Linked DNA regions of Homo sapiens. The protein of the gene in region 2 purifies or fractionates together with the protein of the main gene of each other region. This does not show direct contact. Each region holds a gene or a part of one and is shown on either strand. Other genes may lie near its edges.

Region 1 (3,500 bases), on a different chromosome or scaffold from region 2:
ACTTTGGGAGGCTGAGGTGGGCGGATCACCTGAGGTCAAGAGTTCGAGACAAGCCTGGCCAATGTGGAGAAACCCCATCTCTACTAAAAATACAAAAATTAGCTGGGCGTGGTGGTGGGCGCTTGTCATCCCAGCTACTCGGGAGGCTGAGGCAGGAGAATCACTTGAACCCCAGAGGGGGAGGTTGCAGTGAGCCAAGATCATGCCACTGCACTCCAGCCTGGGTGACAAGAGTGAAACTCCGTCTCCGTCTCAAAAAAAAAAAAAAAAGTCTTTTATACTCCATCTCAGCATTCTAAGCACCGCATCATGAAATACCCCTCAGTTGGGGTGTAGGGTAAAGAGGTCCCAAGTTAGGAAGGGGCACGTGCACATGTCCTTAGTTCTCTCCGGCGTGCTTTGAAATGGAAGCAAGGTGGCAGACCTTTGAAGTTTTTGGGTTTCTTTTATGGTACCATGTTTCTCACCAGATGCAGCTTCCTGCAGGTCTAAGGCCATTATTCAAAACAACAAAAGCTCATCCTGTTTTGGCATAATGGAATTTGAATACACTGTAATAAAGTCTATTCTCAGTCTGCACAAGAGGAAACAAAATTGGTACCTTGATTTTTTTTTTTTTGTAGGGAATAAACTGGTTAAAAATGGATGTGTGTGTTTTTTAAACACAATCCTATTGCTCTTTTTCCTAAATTCTTGTTTGGGCCTCTGAGTCTCCTTCACGACCAAAAGCAGACAAGACAGTTACAGTCCAAGGGTCCCTGCCTTGCACAGGATTAGGATATTTCTGGCCTCCTAAGAGTTCACGAATTACCATATTGGGTCAAAACCAGGGCTCAGTGAACCAACTAGACATTCTGGTCATCCACCCAAAAGATCAGGATTATGTCTGTAAAATATCTATAATGGTGCTATCATTGTGACTTTGCTGAAAACAACTCCAAAACGACTCATATTTTGTTTCTATCACCTCTTAATGGAACAGATTCCAGAAGCTTTCTATTGCTGCTTAGAACAAACATCTCTATACACTATCAAAGGGGCTTGCTCTAAATTTGGTCAAGTTCCCTGATGAGCTGATCCTTGAGCACCGTGCTCCCAGCCTTCATGTGCCATCATGGGCCGGCCTCCTGAGTGTGTCCTCCCCTAAGGTGACCCACATCTCTGCCCCCCGGGTGTCCCTATCCCTGCTCTCCAGTGTAGCCTGCCCTTATTTTCACAGTCAGATTGGCCACTGTCTTAGTTTCCTATTGCCCTTGTGACAAGTTACACATACTTAGTGGCTTAAAACAACACTTTTTTTTTTTGAGAGTCTCGCTCCGTTGTCCGGGCTGGAGAGCAGTGGTGAGATCACAGTTCACTGCAGCCTTGAACTCCTGGGCTCAAGTGATCCTCCCACCTCAGCCTCCTGAGTAGCTGGGACTACAGGTGTGCGCCATCCTGTCTGGCTAATTTTTAAATTTTTTGTAGAGACAAAGGTTTCATCATGTTGCCCAGGCTGATCTTGGACTCCTGGGTTCAAGCAATCCTCCTGCCTTGGCCTCCCAAAGTGCTGAGATTACAGGCACAAGCCACCATGCCCAATTTTTTTTTTTTAAGGCAAGAAATAAATTTTATTGAAGGATTTTTCACCATCCATAGAGATTATCATATGATTGTTTTTCTTAGAATTTTTAATGCATACATTTTTTGGATTTTCTAACTTCAAATTCCCTAATTTCTTCCATTTCTGAAATAAACCGTACTTGATTAAAGTGCATGTTTTATTTTTTAATTTTTATTTAAGTTCTGGGATACATGTGCAGAATATGCAGGTTTGTTACATAGGTATCCATGTGTCATGCTGGTTTGCTGCACCTACCAACCCGTCACCTAGGTTTTAAGCCCCGCATGCATTAGCTATTTGTCCTGATGCTCTCCCTCCCCTCGCTCCCCGGCTCTGACAGGCGCTGGTGTGTGATGTTCCCCTCCCTGTGTCCATGTGTTCTCACTATTCAACTCCCACTTATGACAACATGCGGTGTTTGGTTTTCTGTTGCTGTGTTAGTTTGCTGAGGATGATGCCAGCCAAAATTTTTTATCTTACTGGTCAGAAGTCTATAATGGGTCAGCAGAGCTGTGCTTCTTCAGGATGCTCTAGAGGAGAATCCTTTTCCTTGCCTTTTCCAGCACCTAGAGGCTGCCCGCATTCCTTGGCTCATGGCCACATCACTCTGACCTCTGCTTCCATCATCCATCTCTTCCTCTCACTCTGACCTTCCTGCCTCCCCTTTACAAAGGTCTTTGTGATTACATGAGGCACACCCAGGTAATCCAGGATATTCTCTCCACCCTCAAGCCCTTAACTTAATCACATCTACAAATCCCTTTTGCTACATAAGGCCTGGGGATTAGGATGTGGACATATTTGGGGGGTTATTACTCAGCTGACCATACCATACAACATTTTCTAGGAAAAACCATAGGACATATTTTTTACTTAGCTACAGGCAACTTCCTGAAGACCCCCAGCAGCAGTCTCAGTTGGCTACTCCATCTCTTTCCTGGGCTGAAGCCACCTGGTTAGGACTCATAGCCCAGTAAACACATATGGTATCACCTTGTACCCACTCTCAGAGCACAGAAACCACCTGGTACAAAAGATGATTCCTATGACAAACACATGTATATCTCAACTTACATTTTGCCTGCTGAGGGACAAATTCCTGTAAGAAAACTCCAAGGGCCCAACCAAATTCCAGCAGAAAAATGTCATGACCTGGAACTTTAAGTAGAACCTCTTTGAAGAGGTTGCCCTTAAAGCGAACCAGGTCACAAAAGCTCTGGCCTGGCTTTAGAATTTAGAACTTTTGAATGACACACATGAGAATAACCAAGTTAGCTGTATGGATGGCTATGAGGGGTGCACACAGCCCGTTCACCAACTGAGGAATGGAGAACTCGAAGGGAGGAACGGAGACTCGGCCAAGCCTCAGCACTCACAGCGGCAGGGTGGATGAGTTCTAATAAGGGTAGTTTCCTGTGACAGTCCGGAATCTGGAACTAGGCATCAGGTGAGAGTGCCCTGGAGTGGAGTGGGCTGGGGGAAGAGGATGGGGCTTGCTGGTGGTGTAGGTGTGGGTGTGGCAGCCAGGTCTCCAGTGGCTGCAGGATCCTGCCCTCAGCCCAAATGGCTCCTGCATGAAAAGCTGCGGTGGATCTAAGTGGCAGCTAGGAGTCAAGGCAACTAGCTTCCTCCGAAGCGAGGCAAGACAAGGCACAGCCGAGAAGCCACTCAACCTCTGTTCCCAATGAATCCATTTCCATGTCCCTGCTTCGCTGTACGACACCCCACACCCTGATGTGCATCTTGTGAAAAATCAAGATGAAAATAAAAGGTCAGGAGAAAACTCTGTGGAGACTGTTGTCAATGTAGTCAAACTGACTCTGATATAGACACCTTCCGCATTCTGCACTTACTCATGCAATTTCATTTACTTTTTAGAGAGAAAGGACATTTTCAC
Region 2 (4,746 bases):
GATGAGATTCCACTCTTCATGTCAGAATGGCACTTACATGAGTCAAAGTGTCTAAATGAAATAATTTAAATGGAACAAAGTCAAATACTTACATTTTATTTTTAAATTCTCCTCTATTTGCAGTTATACTTTAAAGTGTACTCCCTTCTCTATCCTATCATGAGGACTGGACAGCCTCCACAGAGATGGCTGGACAAAGCAAGGGAATTTACTTAGGTAAGACACCATTTCTCTTTACTCTGAAATCCCTGCAAATGTAGTTATTCCAGAGGAGACTGTGCAATGACTGATGGGTTTAGCATCCTACATGAGGGGAAATTGCCATTCCCAGCTGTAAAATGAACAAATATCCAGTTATTTTTTTTAGCCATCTTACAGCTTAGCTAATATAACAGGATTTACAGCCAATTATACATGAAAGTTTAATTCTGTGTCAGATAAAGCATATCTTTGATGCAGAAATAGAGGCAGCATTAGGCCTTACCTGGTTAAAAGCTTTTTGCTTTCTATTCATTCATTCGTTCATTCATTCATTCAAACCTATACTTACTGAATGCTCACTAAATGCCGGGGGTTTATTAAGAGAGATTTAAATAAGATGGGATCTTTGACTATTACAGGTTTCAGCCTAGGGGTAAATTAGGGGAAGACAACCATGTATTCAAATAAATGTAATTAAGAGTAATGGTTGTGTGTGTATTTTACATGCTTGTCCTGTGTAAATAACACGTCCACGGTTGCACCTCTGGGGTGGAACATCTATAAAATTTAGATAATGATACCCACTTTGCATGGCTATTGTAATGAATGCTCTTATACATTTGCTATTTATTAAATAACTATAATTTCTCATCTTTCTGTTCCCACTGCCCTTAAGAGTGATTTGCATATTTAACTCAATAAGCATCTACTGAAATGAGTTGATCTGTTGATGTAAGTCTGCTCAATATGGTCTTGCTCTCAGAATATGTTTCTTGCCTTTTTGATGCTTTAGAAGGCTTTCAAGGTAAGTCAAGCAGGGAACCTGGTGGGTAGATGAGGGAATTTTCAAACACACAACTGTCTGATTTAGGATCCTACATGGACTTGGTATATAGTGTCACTTACTTGTAAATCAGATTTTTAAAATTGGAAGCAACTCTGTGATCATCTAGTCCATCTAGTCTACACCCTTCCTTTTACAAATGAAGAATCCAAGAGCCAGAAGCTCCCAGACATCCTGACTCAATGTCCTATATTTGTTGTATAGCCTCCTTTGTGGAAGTTATGTATGCATTTGACTTCACTTAATCTAAGACATCTATTTTCCTTGAACTCTTGATAGGTCTGCTGGTTTCCTCAAGGGAATCCAATCTAGCTGGATTTTAATCTCTTTGAATTGTGTCCTCAGCTATAAAAGTTTTAGCTGAGGTTTTAATGGCTGCACTTAAGTAAATCTAACAGATATACCAGGGGGTGTTCCAATTACATACACCATTAAAGGGCTTTATGTGAGGATTTTTAAAAATTACCATTAAAAAAAAAAAAGCATAGTCCATTTGCAGTATAATTTACCAGCAGGAAAGATTTCAATGTCCTGGAAAAATTCCCTATAAAAAGGAAGATAGGAAAACAGAAAAGTCACAGTACTCAACCTACTTCAAGGGAAGATTGGGATCTTTTTGGCTCTCTGCCTCTAAACAGGTAAAAGGCTTTGTATTATTTCTAGCACGAGTTTTTCTTCTTTAGATTGCATGCTATTGTATGTCTACAGGGCATTTGACAGCCCAAGGGCTAAATCCAGGTGTGACGGTATCTAATGATGTCCTGTCCTTCACTGTCCTTGCCATCACCAGCCACAGAGATCCAGGCTTTGGGGACTCCCACAGCTTATCGACCAGTGTTTGATTTAGTTTTTAGCCTCTTTCCCATCAAATGAAAATTAACTTGGAGACACATTTCATTAGAAAATTAGAGGCCCCCTTGGCTAGGAAGGCATCTGGTCTGGGACTAACTACTTTGAACAGTGTTGAGTCCTCTCTCCCACAGATGGTTCAGCCAGCAGTAATGCTAGGAAGACTGAAGGATAAATAGAAAAATGTCATTAGTACCATGGGGTAGCCATGTAATGTCAAGCAATTTTATATTAGCCAGAGATTCCTAGTAGGAGCTACTTTTCTTAACAGATGACTCAGTTCTCTTTATCTCAGGAATGAAAGAGTTGAAGACCAATCCACAACAGGGGAAATGTTAAGGCAAAATGATGAACTTGATAAGGGATGAATTATGGGGTTTGGATAACCAAACAATAAAAATAAAAGTATAGACTATTTTAGTACTAAAAAGGTCCTGAACATGTGAGCTTAAGTACTCATTTTGTCCCCAGTGGCTAAGAAACTAAAGGCAAGCCAGCAAGTGTCTCTGAGTTTCAGTGTCTGTATGTAAAAACTGACTCTGACTTCCATCTTCTGCAGGGTTAGTGATACAGATGCTAGCTTTTTCACTAAAGAGGTCTTTTAGTTTATACTCAACCTTGTCTGGATCTAATTTGATTGTGCATTCATGTGCCTTAGAATGAAGCCAATTCAAAAACTCCTAGCTGGCCTTATTCTACTGACTTGGTGCGTGGAAGGCTGCTCCAGCCAGCACTGGTCCTATGGACTGCGCCCTGGAGGAAAGAGAGATGCCGAAAATTTGATTGATTCTTTCCAAGAGGTAAGTTTCTCTCAGCTTCAAAATAAGACATAGTGATTTTATTCAATTTAACTATATTAAACATTCAGGATAGCCCCAATGTCAATATTCTATGATGTTGTACCCTAGATGCTCCAGGTGAGATAAGGCACTTACAAAGTAGAAGTCCCATTCCTACTTTCAGTTCACACAGGGACTAAACAAAGAGCTGGAAAAATTCCAAAAGAATATATTAATAGCAACAAGTGTGAGACAGCACGTCATACTCTGAGTGTATGGGATTGCTAAAGGAATTAGAAACAATGGGATAGGGTCAAGGTCTGTATCAGAAGATGATTCTTTGGGATTTGGAAAAAACGTTAGAACTTCGTTTTTTTTTTCCTCATTTCATCTTTTAAACATATCTATGCTATTAGATCAGTACATTTTTATAATTTATAAATGAGTATCCTTATCAAGGATGCATGCCCTATAATTTCTTTTCACTGATAGGGGCATTTAAGCAAAGTTGGAGACTGGTAGAATACAGGAATTAGCAAACTCAAGATGATAAGATAACGTAGTAGAAAACATGCTGATTTAAATTCATATAGATTAGATTATAGGACTGGCACCAACACTAACGTGAGGTACTTGCTTTCTTGTTTTTTGGGGTTATTTTCTAAGACAGGGTCTCGCTGTGTTATCTAGGCTGGAATTTAGTGGCACGATCACAGCTCACTGCAGCCTTGACTTCTTGGGCTCAAGTGATCCTCCCACCTCAGCCGTCTGCATAGCTGGGACCACAGGCATGCACTATCACACCCAACTAATTTTTAAAACTTTTTATAGAGATGGGGTTTCCCTATGTTGCCCAGGCTGGTCTCAAACTCCTGGGCTCAAGGGATCCTCCCACCTTGGCCTCCCAAAGTGCCGGGAGGATTTTTGTTTATAAAATATGACCACTCATCAGGGTCATGTAAGGAAAGAAGCCATCTATGTTAGCTGATTAACCTGAAAAATAACCTAGGACTGAGAATGGGAAAAATTTTAAATCATTTCATTATCATTGGAAGGAATTATCTCTTTTCTGAGAAATAATAAAGATAATTTAGTATTAAAGAAGACCCAGAATCTGAAGCCTCTTCTCTGCAGGTTATACATGAAGCAAATCTCATTGAACTATAACATATTTAGTAAAACCTAGAAAATAAAAACCAACCTTTTTTTACAACTATAAACTCTTGGGGGTTTTTTGCTTTTTGTTTTTTTGGGTATACTGACTCTCATGAGGCTCAAAGTGCCTCCCTCTTTTCATCTTTAAGGGGAAAATATGATATCTTCTTACTGTCTCCATTATCTCCAGATCCCCATGCCATTCAGTAGAAATGTCAGATGGCAGATCTGTGTCCTTAAAGTCCCTATGCTAATCCTGCAACTTTCCCAATCTCCCCCAGCCCCACATCCCCCTTGACCCCACTCTCCACAATTTTTTGGTGGAAATGGAAAACACCATTTCATTTCTTTATCTCCATCTCAAAGCATCACATTCTCTTTCTTCAGATAGTCAAAGAGGTTGGTCAACTGGCAGAAACCCAACGCTTCGAATGCACCACGCACCAGCCACGTTCTCCCCTCCGAGACCTGAAAGGAGCTCTGGTAAGTTAAAGTGATCATAACATGATCACAGCATAGAGCTCTAGAGGTGGATAAGCCTTTGGGGATCACTTAGGACAGCTACCTCCCAGATACTGTGGGGCTTACATTCCTGACTCCTCTGTTACCTCCTGTGGTAGGACCGTGTTTCATGACAATCCCAGTTGGTGGTTAGACAGCACTAGGGGCTGAAACGTTTTTTTGTTTGTTTGTTTTTTCTGAAGTTGAATTGAAATCTCTCTGTAACTTTTATCTCTTAATCCTGGTTCTAGCTTTTGGGATAACTAACAAAACAAATTTCTTCCCACTGCTGCATTTCATTTCTTCAAGTAAAATCACCAAACCCCCTAGACTACTCCACTCCAGGCTACTCCACAGCCCTCCACCTGATCCTGCAACTGTGCTTTATCTTACATGGTTTTCCAGAACCTTGGGGAA

The links.
Region 1: the proteins of GNRH1 (region 2) and EMC8 purify together in Homo sapiens (affinity purification with mass spectrometry; one large-scale study listed by BioGRID and IntAct). This does not show direct contact.

What each region holds. Positions count from the first base shown.
Region 1 is NC_000016.10:85,789,545-85,793,044, forward strand, and holds part of EMC8 (ER membrane protein complex subunit 8), read right to left. Parts: intron 3,390-3,500; exon of another isoform or gene 2,753-3,389; coding exon of another isoform or gene 2,678-2,752; intron 1-2,677. UniProt on the Homo sapiens protein: Part of the endoplasmic reticulum membrane protein complex (EMC) that enables the energy-independent insertion into endoplasmic reticulum membranes of newly synthesized membrane proteins.
Region 2 is NC_000008.11:25,421,138-25,425,883, reverse strand, and holds the start of GNRH1 (progonadoliberin-1 isoform 2 preproprotein), read left to right. Parts: upstream 1-1,622; 5' UTR 1,623-1,683; exon of another isoform or gene 1,684-2,541; coding exon of another isoform or gene 2,542-2,553; coding exon 2,554-2,694; intron 2,695-4,215; coding exon 4,216-4,311; intron 4,312-4,746. UniProt on the Homo sapiens protein: Stimulates the secretion of gonadotropins; it stimulates the secretion of both luteinizing and follicle-stimulating hormones.